Homo sapiens: one gene and its partners. The protein of the gene in region 2 purifies or fractionates together with the protein of the main gene of each other region. This does not show direct contact. Each region holds a gene or a part of one and is shown on either strand. Other genes may lie near its edges.

Region 1 (3,649 bases), on a different chromosome or scaffold from region 2:
TCATTAGCACTGAAATTTGTTTCCAAAGCACTTGTGTGTACAATATTTAATTTAGATCTTCTCAGTGGTCCTGTGGGTTAGAATAGCATGTGGTATTGATGTGTTCATCATTTTACATCTAAGGAAATTGAGCCTTCGGTTGTGACCTGCCTGAGGTCACTTAGCATGCCTGGGACTAATCACTCAAGGCCAAACTCTCTCCTGCCAGGCCAACATGCTGGGTTCTTGTTGGATCAAGGGGGATGAGAGATTTAAAGGGGCTTTGAGGAGAGTCAATGACCAGACACATCCACATTGGTAACCTGGATTGTTGTCAGGAGGGACACCTGTTCCTCCTGTAGGCAGGAAGGGCTAAAGGGTCTGGGTGGTCTGGAGCCTTGACAGCTTTGGCTCAGCTCCAAGTTCTTTTCTACAACTTGAACATACCTGTATTTGCATGAAGGAGGATGAGGGCCAGAGTTGCACTGGGGACTGACATTCTCATAGCCCTTATCTGTGGAGCAGCAAATCTTTGAAATGGAGGACTTGTCCTTTCCCCCAGAATGTTGCATGCCCTCTGGGAGAGAAAAGGAGAGGCAGAGAAATGATTACAATGGAAAACATGTAGGATGGGGTGAAAGGTTAAGATACCTGAGATCTAGTCTCAGCTCTCTGTTGCCCAGCTGTGTGACTTTAGGCAAGGCATAACCTCTCTGAGCCCCTGTTTTCTTTTTTCTTTTTTTTTTTGATACAAGAGTTTCGCTCTTTTTGCCCAGGCTGGAGTGCAATAGTGCAATCTCAGCTCACTGCAACCTCTGCCTCTTGGGTTCAAGCAATTCTCCTGCCTCAGCCTCCTGAGTAGTGGGGATTACAGGCATGTGCCACCACACCTGGCTAATTTTGTATTTTTAGTAGGGATGGGGTTTTGCCGTGTTGGTCAGGCTTGTCTTGAACTCCTGACCTTAGCTGATCCTCCCACCTTGGCCTCCCAAAGTGCTGGATTACAGGCGTAAGCCACTGCTCCTGGCCTGAGCCCGTTTTCTAATTGATAATATAGATACTTAATTTTTCATTTTGTTTTGTTTTGTTTTTTTAGAGATGGGGGATGGGGATCTTCCAATTTTGTTGTCCAGGCTGGTTTTGAATCCCTGGCCTCAAATGATCCTCCCGCCTCAGTCTCCTGAGTAGCTGGGATTATAGGGATGAGCCATCACACCTGACTCCCTATTATTTTATTTTTATTTATTTTTTTGAGATGGAGTCTCACTCTGTCGCCCAGGCTGGAGTGCAGTGAGGCGATCTCGGCTCACAGCAACCTCCGCCTCCAGGTTCAAGTGATTCTCCTACTTCAACCTCCCAAGTAGCTGGGACTACAGGCATGCGCCACCACCCCCAGCTAATTTTTGTATTTTTTTCTTTTCTTTTTTTTTTTTTTTTTTTTTTGAGACAGAGTCTCGCTCTTTTGCACAGGCTGGAGTGCAGAGGCATGATCTCAGCTCACTGCAACCTCCGCCTCCCGGGTTCAAGTGATTCTTCTGCCTCAGCCTCCTGAGTAGCTGGGATTACAGGCACCAACCATCATGCCTGGCTAATTTTTTGGTTTTTTTGTTTGTTTGTTTGTTTGTTTGTTTTTAGTAGAGACAGGGTTTCACCATATTGGCCAGGCTGGTCTCGAACTCCTGACCTCAGGTGATCTGCCCGCCTCAGCCTCCCAAAGTCCTGATATTACAGGCATGAGCCACCGCGCCCGGCCTAATTTTTGTATTTTTAGTAGAGATGGGTTTTCGCCATGTTGGCCAGGCTGGTCTTGAACTCCTGACCTCAGGCGATCTGCCCGTCCCGGCCCCCCAAAGTGCTGGGATTACAGACATGAGCCACTGCACCCGTCCGGTAATTGGTGATATATTTGTTAAATACTTGTTAATTAGCTGCCACTTATTAATTTTTTATTTTGTTTATTTTTGAGACAGGATTTCGCTCTGTCTCCCAGGCTGGAGTGCAGTGGCGCAAAGACGGCTCACTGCAGCTTCAACCTCCCTGGCTCCAGGCAATCCCCCCACCTCAGCCTCCTGAGTAGCTGGGACCACAGGTACAGGTCACCACATCCAGCTAAGCTGCCACTTATTCATATCTAGTTTAGAGGTTGTGAAAGGTACTTGCACAGCTAGAAAACATTGGGGTTTAAGCCCAGATTTGTCTGACTTCAGAGCCTGTGTTCTTTTCATCCTCATGCCCTGATTCCAAGGGCCTTTTCAGTTTAGAAATTCAATTTTTCCCATAATCATTTTGAATTGGGGGAGATTTAAAGACTTTAGTATTTTGAGCCTTGGCTGCTTTCTGTGGATCACTTCTTGGGTTTGGGGAAAAAGCTGACCCACTCCAAGTCCCACTGTGAAGCAAATAACCTTTCTCAGAGGTGGCAGCATGCAGAAAAATACAGGAGTGACGGGGAACTAGAGCTGGGGGCCTGAGGCTGTCTCTGGGAATGCCAGCCCATACACAGCCTCCTTTCCTCCTCACCGCCTCTCCCACCTGCCCCCTTTCCTCCTGAGGCAGGGAGAGAAGGCTCGCTCAGCACACCCAGGACCTGGGTTATTCCTGAGTCATCCATCGCCTGTGTGGGCCTCATTTTGCAGCACTCGCTCCCCCTGCAAATGTCTGAGTCAGGCATGTCTCCCCAAGGTTGTCTGCACACACTGCACTGGGCCAAACTGTCTCTTTAGATGCCGATAAACATCAACTGATACTTTAAAGCAGCCCGTGATTATATGTTGGTATTTTAATCTTATGGGCTAATCTAATTTTAACTGAACTAAGTTTTGGGTTGGGCCTGGATCAGTGGGCTGCCCGCCTTCCCTGGGATCATGCTGACTTCATTTTCTTCCCCCTAAAGCTCATCTAATATACAGAGCCGATTTTGGGGTCTATTAGGCCAGACCTGAGCCCTGAGTTTTTATACTACTTGCCAAGAATCCAGAGTTCCCCCCAAATTACCCCAGCAAATTCTTTCCTGAAAAGATATGTCCTTAAGCAGTTCTAACTGAGATTCAGGATGAAAAGCTCTGTTCCTTCCCAGGCCCCCTTCCCTGTCCCTTGGGAAGCACTTACCCCTAAGCCCAGACTGGCCTTGCCACAGTGCTGAGCCTGTTTGAGACCAGGCCACAGAAGGCGGAGGAGTGATATCACAGCTGTGTGTTAGAGCCCACAAGTTCACTAAACCAATAAATAGCTAACACTTGCATAGCATTTGCTGTATGCCAAGTGAAGCTGGAAGAGGCTGTGTCTTTGCATCAGCCAGCCAGGACCAAGAGCAGCTCGCTAAGATCCTGGGTGGAAGAGGCAGGTCAGCTGAAATCAGCTAGCAGGCATTTAGCATATGGCCATCAAGGAACAAAAGAAGAGTAAACCCAGGCCCTGCTCTTTAGGAGCTTCCAGCCTGCCAGGGCTGGGCGGACTCCTGGCAGAGGCAAAGTACAGAGGGAGCAAGCAGTCCCTGAGGACTGGGGTGTTTAGAGAAAGCCTCTCAAAGGAGGTGGAACATTAGTCTGAGTCTTGAAGGATGGAAAGGAATTAGATAAGCAGGCTATACTTAGTACCAATTTCCATAAGAATGTAAGCCTCTTGAGGACAGGGACTTTGTTTGTTCACTTTCTTTTTTTTTTTTTTTTTC
Region 2 (3,749 bases):
TACTCCTGGTTCCTCTTTGAAGTTCGTAGTAGATAGCGGTAGAAGAAATAGTGAAAGCCTTTTTTTTTTTTTTTTTGAGGCGGAGTCTCGCTCTGTCCCCCAGGCTGGAGTGCAGTGGCGTGATCTCGGCTCACTGCAATCTCCGCCTCCTGGGTTCACACCATTCTCCTGCCTCACCCTCCCAAATAGCTAGGACTACAGGCGCCCTCCACCACGCGCCCGGATAATTTTTTGTATTTTTAGTAGAGACAGGGTTTCACCGTGTTAGCCAGGATGGCCTCCACCTCCTGACCTTGTGATCCGCCCGCCTCAGCCTCCCAAAGTGCTGGGATTACAGGCGTGAGCCACCGCGCCCGCCCGAAATAGTGAAAGTCTTAAAGTCTTTGATCTTTCTTATAAGTGCAGAGAAGAAAACGCTGACATATGCTGCCTTCTCTTTCTGCTTCGGCTGCCTAAAAGGGAAGGGCCCCCTGTCCCATGATCACGTGACTTGCTTGACCTTATCAGTCATTTGGACGACTCACCCTCCTTATCCTGCCCCCCCTTGTCTTGTATACAATAAATATCAGCGCGCCCAGCCATTCGGGGCCACTACCGGTCTCTGCGTCTTGATGGTAGTGGTCCCCCGGGCCCAGCTGTTTTCTCTTTATCTCTTTGTCTTGTGTCTTTATTTCTTACAATCTCTCCTCTCCTCACAGGGGAAGAACACCCACCCGCAAAGCCCCGTAGGGCTGGACCCTACGTTAGCCTGCCCTGCTCGGGGTTGGCGATGCTGGAGGTGGGCCTTGGACCAGAGAAAATGCTTTAATTAGGTGACAAGCGGGCAGAGGCCTTTGTCTCTGGCGCCGGCAGCCACGGCCCCCGCTGACGGCGTGGGAAACAGACCCTGTTCCACTCCGGTCTCCAGCCTTGGAATGGTTGCCTTCGTGCAGTGCAGGTCTGGAAAGTAGCAGTTTGGCACGGGACCCTAGAATTCCCCAAAAGGAGTGACTAGGGGCTGGGATTCTGGAATTTGAGTGTGGACGGTGAGGCGGGGGGTGTGGGAGATCGGAGACCCTGGTGGGCGCGGGAGCACCTGCAGGCTGGAGGCCCTCGCGCGCTCCGGCGGCAGCCTGGCAAACAGGTTCTCCATCCCCCAGGAGGACGCGGCAGAGGGCGGACGATCGCTCCACTCGCCGGGACCAGGTGCGGGGGCCCTGCCCAGCCGCTGGGGCGTGGCCAGGCTCGAAGCACCCAGGTGTCGGGGGCCGACTCTAAGCCCTGGCACCGGAAGAGAGAGGGCGGCGGATTGGACCTCCCGGCTCCAGCATTGCAACTGGGCGCTCCGTCTCCTGGTCCACGCAATGATGCTGCGGCTGCTCAGAAGCCAGGTAGCCTGCCCTGGGTGAAGCCTTCGCGCAGGTCAATGACGGGGCGGAGGGGCAGGGCGCGGTCCCCTGCATCCCCGATCTGGGGAGCGGTGGGCCCAGGGGCCATCGCCTTAGCCCCTGGCGCTGGGGCTCGGCGCCAAGTGACGGGCGGGGCTCCACCTTCCAGCCATCCGCCCGGCCCGGGAGGGCGGACGCTGCGAGACTCCCGGCCGCGCCCTCTCCTTCCTCTCCTCCCCAAGCCCTCGCTGCCAGTCCGGACAGGCTGCGCGGAGGGGAGGGCTGCCGGGCCGGATAGCCGGACGCCTGGCGTTCCAGGGGCGGCCGGATGTGGCCTGCCTTTGCGGAGGGTGCGCTCCGGCCACGAAAAGCGGACTGTGGATCTGCCACCTGCAAGCAGCTCGGGTAAGTGGGGACTGCCCCACTCAGTTGTTCCTGGGACCCAGGAACAACTCCTTCAGAACCAGGAGGTGCACCCCCAACCTCTTCTCCAGGTCTTCCTAAGGCCCTAGGAATCTCCGCCACCTCCCCAGCCATTACTCCTCCAGGAACCAAGATGCTCCTTCCGCTCCTGACCCTCCAGCCTCTCTTGTTTTACTTGAACTATCGTTTCCCATCACCACCTCTGTGGTGGATTTTGCGCCTCACAGACAGGTACTCCTGAGAAACAGGCTGGTGGAAGAGTCCAGTATCAGCGGAACTTACAGGAGGGGAGACTCGAGATTCCTTCAGGAAAGGTGTAGGAACCTGGACCACTTTCTTTTTTTTTTTTTTTTTTTTTTTTTAAGACAGGGTCCCTCTCTGTCGCGCAAGCTGGAGTGCAGTCAGCGGTGCTATCGCGGCTCATTGTGAGCTCCGGGGATCCTCCCGCCTTAGCATCCGGTGTAGCTGAGACCACAGACATGTGCCACCATGCCAAGCTAATTTTATTTATTTTTTTTTGGAGACGGAGTTTCACTCTTGTTGCCCAGGCTGGAGTGTAATGGCATGATCTCAGCTCACCGCAACTCCCGCCCCCCGGGTTCAGGCGATTCTCCTGCCTCAGCCTCCCGAGTGGCTGGGATTACAGGCATGCGCCACCATGCCCGGCTAATTTTGTATTTTAAGTAGAGACAGGGTTTCTCCACGTTGGTCAGGCTGGTCTCGAACTCCCAACCTCAGGTGATCCACCCACCTTGGCCTCCCAAAGTGCTGGGGTTACAGGTGTGAGCCACCGCGCCTGGCCCATGCCAAGCTAATTTTAAAATTTTTTTGTAAGAGTGCTCTGTTGCCCAGGCTGATCTTGAACTCCTGGGCTCAAGGGATCCTCCCATCTCAGCCTCCCAATATGCTGGGATTACAGGTGTGAGCCACAGTGCCCAGCCAAACCATGGCTATCTTGAAAACCACTTGTCTTCCAGTCCCCATGCCCCGAAATTCCAAGGCTCTCATCCCTGAAACCTAGGACTCAGGCTCTCCCTACCTCAGCCCCAGGAGTCTAAACCTTTAACTTCCTCTTTCCCTGGGACTAAGGAGTGCTGCACCCCAGGCGCCTCCCTTACCCCACATCCCTCCTCAGCCTCCCCTCCTCAGCCTCAGAGCATTTGCTAATTCGCCTTTCCTCCCCTGCAGCCATGTGGCTCCGGAGCCATCGTCAGCTCTGCCTGGCCTTCCTGCTAGTCTGTGTCCTCTCTGTAATCTTCTTCCTCCATATCCATCAAGACAGCTTTCCACATGGCCTAGGCCTGTCGATCCTGTGTCCAGACCGCCGCCTGGTGACACCCCCAGTGGCCATCTTCTGCCTGCCGGGTACTGCGATGGGCCCCAACGCCTCCTCTTCCTGTCCCCAGCACCCTGCTTCCCTCTCCGGCACCTGGACTGTCTACCCCAATGGCCGGTTTGGTAATCAGATGGGACAGTATGCCACGCTGCTGGCTCTGGCCCAGCTCAACGGCCGCCGGGCCTTTATCCTGCCTGCCATGCATGCCGCCCTGGCCCCGGTATTCCGCATCACCCTGCCCGTGCTGGCCCCAGAAGTGGACAGCCGCACGCCGTGGCGGGAGCTGCAGCTTCACGACTGGATGTCGGAGGAGTACGCGGACTTGAGAGATCCTTTCCTGAAGCTCTCTGGCTTCCCCTGCTCTTGGACTTTCTTCCACCATCTCCGGGAACAGATCCGCAGAGAGTTCACCCTGCACGACCACCTTCGGGAAGAGGCGCAGAGTGTGCTGGGTCAGCTCCGCCTGGGCCGCACAGGGGACCGCCCGCGCACCTTTGTCGGCGTCCACGTGCGCCGTGGGGACTATCTGCAGGTTATGCCTCAGCGCTGGAAGGGTGTGGTGGGCGACAGCGCCTACCTCCGGCAGGCCATGGACTGGTTCCGGGCACGGCACGAAGCCCCCG
Region 3 (3,649 bases), on a different chromosome or scaffold from region 2:
CACGCCATTCTCCTGCCTCAGCCTCCCGCGTAGCTGGGACTACAGGCGCCCGCCACCACGCCCGGCTAATTTTTTGTGTTTTTTTAGTAGAGACGGGGTTTCACTGTGTTAGCCAGGATGGTCTCGATCTCCTGACCTCGTGATCCACCCGCCTCGACCTCCCAAAGTGCTGGGATTACAGGCGTGAGCCACCGCGCCCGGCCAATGGCATTCTTTTTTAAATTAGTAAACCAAACTAGTAAAAACTAAACCCAACTCCTCAATTTTATTTCATCCTTCTCTTTTCAAATAATTACTGAAAACAAAATTTACATTGAAGAAAATTATGTAAACATTTCATCACTTGAAGTTTGAGGTTTTGTTCCTTTTTATTCTAAGGGAAAATAGGAATTAGAGTACTTCTGAGATATTGGTTACTTGGAGGTTTTATTTTCCAGGTTATTTACTGTATTCTTCACAGATGAAGTTTTGCTTATATTATGTCTATTTTATAAGTGAGATTACACAGTAAGAAACTTAAGTGACTCCATTGCAGCCATAAAGCCAGGACTATATATATTTCTAGACACCTTCTTCTGTTGTAGCCCCATGCCCCATAGACATGGAAATCAAGAAATTACATCATTACTTTTGAAATTGGAAGAGTGTCATTCCCAGTGATGTGCTTGGCCTAGGTGTCTCGAAATAATGATGTGTGGCAGAACCATGAAGCAGTTCCTGGAAGAGCAGAAGACACAAAACTCTATGCTCCCACCCATAAGGAGGCAGAATTTCAGGCTCCCCCAGAGCCAATCCAACAAGAAGTGGAACGCAGAGAACCTGAGGAGCATCAGGTGGAAGAGGAGCACAGAAAGGCCCTGGAGGAGGAAGAAATGGAGCAGGTCGGGCAAGCAGAACATCTTGAGGAGGAACACGATCCATCACCAGAGGAGCAGGATCGGGAGTGGAAAGAGCAGCATGAGCAACGAGAAGCAGCCAACCTCCTGGAAGGGCACGCGCGTGCTGAGGTATGAAGTCACCCGCTTCTGGTATGGTGTACTGGGATGGAAAACCTGGCTTTATTTTTACATATTAAGGTAATATATCACAATCTCTAAAATAGAAATGTGAGTGATTCTACTAAACATTATATGCTCATATTTAAGTTTTCTCTTGTAATGTTAATAGCATAGCTATTCGCATACCTCAGAAAGATGATTGGTGATGAGAGAGCACAGCTGTTGTATGTGTGCATTCTTCTTTTTGTCAGTTGTACACAGTCAGAGATTCATTCTCACATCACCTTAATAGAGTAGAACAGGTGAGTACCTGATGGGGCACCTTCCCAGCTTGTACCCAAGTTTTGTCTTGAGCATCTTGAGGCAGAGAAAAATCTCATTTTCTATGATCAGGCGTCCTCCTCTCCCTGTTCATTTATTGTCAGTATGTTGCCTTTTGTATTCACCTTCAAGGTGGTTATTTAATTATCAAAAATCTGATTTTACTACTTGGAGATATTCTACTAGGTGAGCATATCTAAACAGCCTCTGCTCAGGATCCCTTACTGGACACGCCACTTACACGTAAGACTTTTCCCTTTCTTAAAAAAAAATGGCCAGGATTATTATAAATGATGCTTTAAAAGAAAACTCTACCCTTTCTTCTTTTAAACCAACAGTTAGTGCAGCTAGATGCCTTTCTTTTACTGTCTCTAAACTGAGTCTCAATAGTAGGTTACCTGGCCTTTACATGGGTGTGGATCACCTTCTATTTATAACTCTGAAGTTTTATTCGGCCTCAGATTTTCTGAGACTTCAAGCCGCTTGAGGCTTTAGGCTAAGCAGGTGTGAAGACCTCTGTAGTTGCCCTCTTAGGTAGTTGCAAACTTAACCTCAGAAAGCTTCTTCCAGTCTTGTGTCCTTCCCCAATAGGGGAAGTAATTCCCCACCAGCTTTACTTCCCAACCCTCTACCTCTTTCCTTAAGTGAGAATTGTGTGTGCTTTTGTTAGTTGGGGTATGGCAGGGAGGATGGGTAGTAGCTCAATGGGGTACAGACACTTTTTATTGATGCATAATATATGTATATATTTTCAGAGTATGGGCGATATTTTGAAACATTCATATAATGTATAATGATCAAATCTAGATAACCCATCACATCAAACCTAGATAACCCATCACATCAAACATTTATCTCTTTTTTATTTTGGGAGCATTCAAATTCTTCTAGCTGTTTTGAAATATAAGATAGATTATTGTTAATCGTAGTCACCCTACTGAACTACCAAACATTAGGTCTTATTCCTTCTCTCTAACTATATGTTTGTACCATTCATCAGTCTCTCTTCATCCCCCTTCCCAGCTTCTAGTAACCACCAATCCACTCTATCTTATCAATATCGCTTTTTTAAGCTCCTACATGAATGAGAATATGCAATGTATGTCTTTCTGTGCTTGAAGTTTTTCACTTAACATAATGGCCTCCAGTTCCATCCATGTCACTGCGTATGACAAGATTTCATTCTTTTTTATGACTGTGTATATGTACCACATTTTCTTTATCCATTCATCCGTTGATGGATGCTTAGGTTGATTTCATGTTTTAGCCATTGTGAGTAATGCTGCAATAAACCTGAGAGTGCAAGTATCTCTTCAATATAGCAATTTCCTTTCTTTTGGATATGTGCCCAGTAATAGGATAGCTGGATCATATGGTGGTTCTATTTTTAGCTTTTTGAGGAACCTCCATACTGTTTTTCATATTGGCTATACTAATTTACATTCTCACCAACAGCGTACGAGGGTTCCCCTTTCTCCACATCCTCACTAGCGTTTGTTGTTGCCTTTTTGATAAAAGCCATTATAACTGGGGTGAGATAATATCTCAGGGAAGCAGAGTTTTAAGAATTGCTGTATCAGATTTCCCTTTAATCAGAAGGCACCATCTTCTCAGCCATTCTTAGTTTCTTTGAAAAAAAATTGAATATCTGCTTTTCCACTATTACCTGGAATGTGGCTTTTTTTTTTTTTTTTTTTGGCTATGCTTAGCCTGGGATTGGTATATACATTACTAGAGTTAATTAGCATCCCTCGGTCTTTAACTGTTCATGGAAAAAGCCTTAGGCGTAGCATAAGGTCACAGATTGCCCAGTTAATGTGAAGTTACCAAAGTTACCAACTACTTGTTTATATCAGAGCCTTGTGAACATAAATTTTACAGTTTGAAACTGTTATCTTCGGTTGTCCCTTCTGTTCCATTTGAGAAGGGAGCACATTGAAAATCTGCCTTAATAGCAGTAGTTGGAAATATCAGCTGCTAAAAAAGCCAAGGGTGATTCAGAGAAAGTTGGGAAATAGGAGTTTTTGGACTTCATGTATAATCACAGTTCACCTGACAAATAGTCGTTAATAAACCAGCTCTGCCTCCTGAGTTTGTCAGGAGAAACAAATGAAGAGAAAACCCAGAGGAGCTAACCCCTCTTGCTCTGCACCAACTCTTTTTCACCCTAGGTGTACCCTTCAGCCAAGCCAATGATCAAATTCCAATCACCCTATGAGGAACAGTTGGAACAGCAGAGACTGGCAGTGCAGCAGGTGGAGGAGGCCCAGCAGCTGCGGGAACACCAGGAAGCTTTGCACCAGCAGAGGCTGCAGGGGCACTTACTACGG

What was found.
Region 1: the proteins of FUT1 (region 2) and SLC9A1 purify together in Homo sapiens (affinity purification with mass spectrometry; 2 studies listed by BioGRID and IntAct, with this or other methods). This does not show direct contact.
Region 3: the proteins of FUT1 (region 2) and GOLIM4 purify together in Homo sapiens (affinity purification with mass spectrometry; 2 studies listed by BioGRID and IntAct, with this or other methods). This does not show direct contact.

What each region holds. Positions count from the first base shown.
Region 1 is NC_000001.11:27,145,073-27,148,721, reverse strand, and holds part of SLC9A1 (sodium/hydrogen exchanger 1), read left to right. Parts: intron 1-3,649. UniProt on the Homo sapiens protein: Electroneutral Na(+) /H(+) antiporter that extrudes Na(+) in exchange for external protons driven by the inward sodium ion chemical gradient, protecting cells from acidification that occurs from metabolism.
Region 2 is NC_000019.10:48,750,513-48,754,261, reverse strand, and holds the start of FUT1 (galactoside alpha-(1,2)-fucosyltransferase 1), read left to right. Parts: upstream 1-1,620; 5' UTR 1,621-1,772; intron 1,773-2,978; 5' UTR 2,979-2,980; coding exon 2,981-3,749. UniProt on the Homo sapiens protein: Catalyzes the transfer of L-fucose, from a guanosine diphosphate-beta-L-fucose, to the terminal galactose residue of glycoconjugates through an alpha(1,2) linkage leading to H antigen synthesis that is an intermediate substrate in the synthesis of ABO blood group antigens.
Region 3 is NC_000003.12:168,029,878-168,033,526, reverse strand, and holds part of GOLIM4 (Golgi integral membrane protein 4), read left to right. Parts: intron 1-674; coding exon 675-1,007; intron 1,008-3,490; coding exon 3,491-3,649. UniProt on the Homo sapiens protein: Plays a role in endosome to Golgi protein trafficking; mediates protein transport along the late endosome-bypass pathway from the early endosome to the Golgi.